2 separate regions of the Homo sapiens genome follow, and region 2 is linked to region 1. Evidence: fine-mapped expression QTL. A gene starts in region 1. The other region holds a variant in brackets. All regions are shown on one strand. Distances are from middle to middle.

Region 1 (2,910 bases):
TTACAGGCATGGAACACGGTGCCTGGCCGATTAGAAGGCTTTCTAATTCAACCCCTCTCATCATACAGATGAGCAGTCTGAGATGCAGAGAGGGGACTGATAACAAAGTCATAGACCCAGGGAAGTGACTGTTCATAGGGGTTCTCTGGTTCAACAGCCCTATGCGATGCTGGAATAACCTAGACAGGCCAAGCTGACAAGAGGGCAGGAGAGTGAGTCTGGAACCAAGATATGCCCTCCCAGGTCACAGCGCTACATTGAAGAGAAACAGACTGTGCCTTCTTGAATTTCGGACTGCATTCTCAGTAGCTGAGGCCCTACCTGGCAGCAAAATATCTGGTCCTGGCTCTGCAAGCAGTTGTTGCCTCTGGCATGTTAGAGCCCTTGGCCAAAGGGCTGTTCCTGTCTTCTTGTTCTCAAGGATAGCTAACCAGCCTGCAGGTACATAGAGAAACCAGCCCTGGGCCCACCGGGCTGCAGGCACTCGGGAGCTGGATCTTTCACAATCTCCAGACCCAAAGGTGGCTTGGCGATTATTTGTTTATCAAACTGCGGCTTCCCAGCCCACTGCCTGCCCACACCCACCTACCCTCCCGCCTGCCCACAGGCCAGCCTCCCTGCTCTTCCCACCTCTGGGACAGGCAGGGCCCTCCATGGTTTTCCAGATGTGTGCAGGGAGTTCTCCTCAGAGCCCCCACAGTCAGACAATGGCCACACACTGCTTCCTAGGCCTTCCCAGGCAGTGCTAGAAGGAGACGAGCAGCCTTCCCAGGAGAGGCGGCCGGCGCCGCTGATAAAATATTGGCAAAATTATCACGAAAAGCCAGAGTCATGAAGCTATCCCTCTGCCAAGGAGCACGGAAAGCACCAAAAAAGAGCCTGGGGGTCATGTGTCCAGAGATGCCAGGCTTCCTTCCTCTTTCCAGGCAGCCCGAGCGCAGGCTCCCTCACCTCCCGCCCCCACCCCTGTTCCCATGGCAAAGGAGAGGAGGATCCACTTACTGCTAGTGTTCATGGTGATGTCTTTGCACTGGGTCTTTCATTCAATACGGAGGCCCCGGCTGCTTTTTAAATCTTCCGTTCTTCGAACCTCACTCATCACCTGGGGGGTGAAAAGGCAGTCCAGTGCCAGCTCTGTATCCTCAGGTGCTCTCTCTCCCTCTGCTGTCCCCTCTCTGTCTGGGCTGTAGCCCCTGGCCTTGAAGGCGCGTGGACTAATAGGCGCAGGTGAGAGCAAGGAGAAGGAGGCGGCAGGACACCGGCGCCCCGGTCCTCCTGCTCCTCAGATTGGAATCCCGGGCAGAAGTGGGGTTGGCAGCGCCTGCTCGCGCGCACCCCGGACTATTCCTGCCCAGCGGCTCCGGAGCCCAAAGGGGGTGTGGACCACAGGGAGGCAGGGCGGGGGCAGCGCGTCCCCGCCCGGCTTCAAGGAGCAGCGACCCGCCCCGGAACCCACCTCTCGGCCAGTGTCGGGAGCCAGAGGCCCCTGCCCCGGCCCCTGCGACTGATTTCATGAATCCTGGTCCTCGTCTGGGGTCTCGAATTCCAGGGCTAGCAATGCGAAATAGGGGAGCTCGACATCCATGATGCGGGCTCGCGGGTTGGCAGCGCAGGGGGCGCGGCCGCTCGCTGCTGCCACCTGCTGGACGCACCGGCGCGTGTCCGAGGCCCCGCCCCGCCGGGCTTCTGCCTGGGCCCTAGGGTGTGATGGGAGATGGACGAGGCCTTGTGAGATGGACGAGGCCTTGTGTCCTGGGACCAACGAGGGAGTGCTTGAGCGCTTGTTTTCCCTCCCTCGATCCTGGGGTTCTAAGGGCTCGACAATGATAGGAAAAGAAACATCATTAGGAGGGGCCGTGAAGGAAAACCTGGCTTTGCAGGAAGACAGTTTCCACCCGGCTCTGCTCTGGCAAGCTTGGCGCAGTCTAGGCTCAAGCCGGTCACTACCGTCTCTGCCTCATCTTTCTCAACTATGAATATGGCGTCTGGACAAGTGGATAACACGTAAGGGGCTCTTCCAGCCTCCCAGCGTTTATGTCCCCTCTTCCCTCACAGATTCCCTTTATCCTCTATCGCTGATTCATCATTAGAATTGTTTATTACCTCTTTTCCCCACGAGAATGTTAGCTCCGTGAAAGAATGGGTCTGTCCGTAGGGTTCACCTACAGGCCCCCAATACCTAGCACAGGGCCCGGCATATAGTGGCTACCAATAAATATTTGTTGACAGAGCAACCCAGACATTTTCTGGGTTTAATATTACACAGCCCTAAGAGTAGACTGCCTAGGCGCCCCACCCTGAAACACTTCCCCGTCTGAGGAGAACAGCAGGTATGTGGCCTCACAGGTCCACCCTAGTTTTCATATGGTCAACTAACTCTTCCCCCAAGTTGTTGTTGTTTTTTTTTTTTTTTTTGTAATTATGTCTTATACGTGTGTATTGTAGAAGTTTATATTCCAAAGTGTTTTAGTCACAATTGATTCAGTGGGGTAGGGCTCTTTACATTCCTGTGACTACTTACTCTGTCACTTTCTGAACCTAATTCATGATCATAGAAGCATGACTTTTGAGTGCTGAAAAACAAGACTGTGAGGGCACATGATCCTTGTCTATAGCATGACTTCAATTAGAGCATGTGCAGACTCAAAAGGCTGTGAACACTCACAGCCCCAGCTTAGACAAGGAAACAGGGTGTCAGAGAGGCTGGGCAACGTGCCCTAAGACACACAGCATCTTGTGGCAGAATCGGACCAGATCTTCTCACTTCTAGCTTGATCCTGTGTGAGAGTGGCTCAGTGCACTAAAGTCTGGGATATCAGTGTGAGATTAGATAGCTGCCCTATTAAAATTGGGGAAAGACAAATACGATGTTTTTATACAATGCTTTTAGATAAATACAACGTTTCTACC
Region 2 (2,910 bases), 80 kb before region 1:
CTAATTCTGACCAACATGGACAAATTGACTGCTGAAGTCGATGTGACATGTGACAGGCGAGAAAATGGCCACATCGGCATGAGTCTGTGGTGACCTGAGAGGAGAAGCTGGAAACAAACTTTAGAAATACAAACCTTAAGCTACTACACTGTAATACTTTCTATATGATTCAAGATGCTTGGTAACCCTTAAAATCTAAATAAAAAAAAAAATGGCAGCTCGCCAAAAATTAAAATATACTCTATTTAAAATGAAATATGCTTAGTAGAGTCAGACTTCAGGAAGTATCAATTTAGTACAGTAACAGAATATGTCTGAAAAATCTAAAATTAGGTAGTAGGATTGGGGAAACATAAGATTTAAAGTTTTTAAGCATAACTCCTACAACCTAAGCTGTCAGTAGAGAGATCCAATTTAAAGTAATAATGCTAAACTACGAAATTATAGCAACCAATACTACAGTAGTGCCTTTTAGAGGGTGGTTTCATGAAATGCGTAGATGATGACTGAGGGCTGGCGTTCCACAACCCATAACAATGGGAGGCCCTCACTTGAACATCTCTCAGCTTAGTGCACCTTTTCTGAGTTACAACCCAGCCATGCCAGAAATACACAGCTCCTGAAACCAGGACCTTGTATCCTCTGAGCTAAAAAAAAAAAAAAAAAAAAAAAAGTAATCTGAAATAGATTCAGTTACACAAGAGAAGGGTTTGGGGTTTGGTGTAATTATCAAAACAAGCTTTTGAGACTCCGTTTCGGATTTGTGTTAACACAGAACCAAGTCTCTTCACTTTATTTTGGCCCATGGACACCTCTGAAAATCTGATGAAAGCTATGGACCCTCTGCCTAAAGAAACACACCTAGCATGCAAAATTTAGCAAGCAATTTCAGAAGACTCATAGAGTTCAAAAGGCTGACCATGAACCAGTTTAAGAATTCTGGTAATATAGATGTAAGAAAATTGCCTCCAAGAACCCTAGCAAGACAGGCCCACTTTGGCTAAGTGGCGTATGCTCTTGAAACTTTCATTCTCATCCTCTAAAATGAGGACATTAATAGTTTTTAGCTGACAGGGTTGTCGTGAGGATAAAATGGGATACTGTGTTTCAAACTCTTAGTACAGTACTTGGCACATAGTAAATGCTCAAAGTATACCAACAAATAATAATTATATTATTAATAATAATAATAAAATGATGGCATTTTATTATTATTAATATTTTTATTATTATCATTATTATTGGTGAGACCTATAATTTGTTATAATACTTTTCTTTAGCAGAGTGAGGTTTGTCCAGTATTTTATAAATGATTTCCTGCCTTGTGGGTTTTAGTTAAATATACAAATGATAACAGCGAATTGTTTTAAAATGTGCAGCTGAACTTACGTAATTCCAGGGTTATTGTCTCAGGTCTTAGAACAGGAGGGTATTTGGTGTAGACAGAAGGGTAGAAGAAGAGTCTATTTTCTCCCTTTTCCTGGGTACAGGCACATTTAGAACAAGAGCAAAATTTGTCTCATGAACCACATTTGGGATTTTAAAAAAACTCTCACTGATCTAGTAACTGCAACCTTTGGGATTTCAGTATAAGTTTTGCCCTGAACCTGCAGCATTTTGGCCATTATTTTGCTGCACAAAATGAGTGACCTAA[T/C]TTCCTGGTGAAGCCCAAATGAAGGGTTTGGATAACAAACAGATTAGATATTTGGCATCTTTACAAACACAGTTAAAAGATTGAATACACAACAGAACTTAAAACAAATAAAACTTGCTCTTGTCTCCTGGGGCCCCAGAAGTTCTCCTCCAGACAGACGTCAGACTTCTCCCAATTAGAGCCCATCAGAAAGCCATCACATAGCAATTAAAACACAAACAAACTCACCCAAAGAATCTCCCAAGGACCATTTGCCAGTACCATGCTGTGTCCAGCTCCAGAACTGACAAGGCTGGGTTTGTAAGCTTTGCAGGCATCCCAACACTCTCTCTCTCTTATATAAGTTGCTTTATGGAGTCCCCAGTGCCTTCACATTCACTCTCTCCTCTAATGTTCATGAGGACCTTGTGGCATATGGTTGCTCTCTGTGTGCCAGGTAAGTGGGCCTGCCTCAGTTTCTCCACCTCGTTCTGCTTCCACCCACCCAGGGAGGGCCTTTGCACTCACTGTTCTCACTGCCTCCTCAATCTTCCTGCCCTTTTCAGCCTCCCACCTCCTACTCATTTTCAAGGTCTTGGCTTGAAATATCCCTTTTTAGGGGCACCTTCCCTGGCTTCCCAGACTAGAGCAGGGGCTTTATAACACATGCCCATTGTTCAAAACTTTCTCTGTGCAGCACTTGTCACAGCTTGTCATTGAATGTTTACACTTCTATTTGGCACTGTTGGTTTCTCTTTCCAGAGAGTGAACTCCACCAGGACAGCAAGCATGCTTGCCTCACTCATCTCTGAATGCCCAACATGTAGCAGAGAGCCTGGCACATAGCGTGGCCCCCAGTTTGAGTGGATCAATGAAAGACGATGATGTTATCCTCATTTTACAGGTGAAGCAAGAGATCCAGAGAAGGAAGCCACTTCTCAAGGTCACAGCCTATTAGTGGAATTGCTGACGCTTGAACCCGGGAGTCCTGGCTCTCAGCCACTTCTTTACACTCCTGAGCTACCCAGGAGCAGGGTTTTCTTGCCAATTCTGGGGGATATCATATTGAATCCTGGTGTCCCCACTTGGTGAGGGTGTCCAAGGCCCAGATCTCAGTGGTAGCAGAACCCCCACAAGACACTCACAGCCCAAGTGAGCGTGACTCTAGCACTGCTTGGCCTGGTCCCCCTCATTCCAGGATCACTTAGCATCCTTTCAGGCAGGTCCTTGAATGCCCTGCAATTACTCCCACTCTCCCAGGAGCCAGGAGAGGGATG

Which allele goes with the higher level. Alleles are on the strand shown, and positions count from the first base shown. SD is a standard deviation of normalised expression in the study named.
For the expression in putamen of the gene that starts at base 1,618 in region 1, T is the high allele of the variant in region 2 and C is the other (moderate effect, 0.55 SD a copy in GTEx).

Evidence for each region. PIP is the estimated chance that this variant, and not a neighbour inherited with it, causes the effect.
Region 2: its variant is fine-mapped to the expression of ABLIM3 in putamen (GTEx, PIP 0.90).

Annotation. Positions count from the first base shown.
Region 1 is chr5:149,140,201-149,143,110 of GRCh38, reverse strand. ABLIM3 (actin binding LIM protein family member 3) reads right to left here and starts at 1,618. Exons shown (of 24, transcript NM_014945.5): 1 at 1,457-1,618; 2 at 1,003-1,102. The coding sequence starts at 1,015. It overlaps LOC124901102 (a long non-coding RNA gene), which reads right to left and starts at 995. Exons shown (of 2, transcript XR_007058988.1): 1 at 322-995. RefSeq lists enhancers at 196-695, 696-1,197 and a silencer at 1,503-1,752.
Region 2 is chr5:149,220,425-149,223,334 of GRCh38, reverse strand. The region is part of intron 8 of ABLIM3 (actin binding LIM protein family member 3); the gene reads right to left. Among named protein-coding and RNA genes, the nearest start is that of AFAP1L1, 50 kb to the left of the region's middle. The variant T/C (reference allele first, on the strand shown) is at 1,655.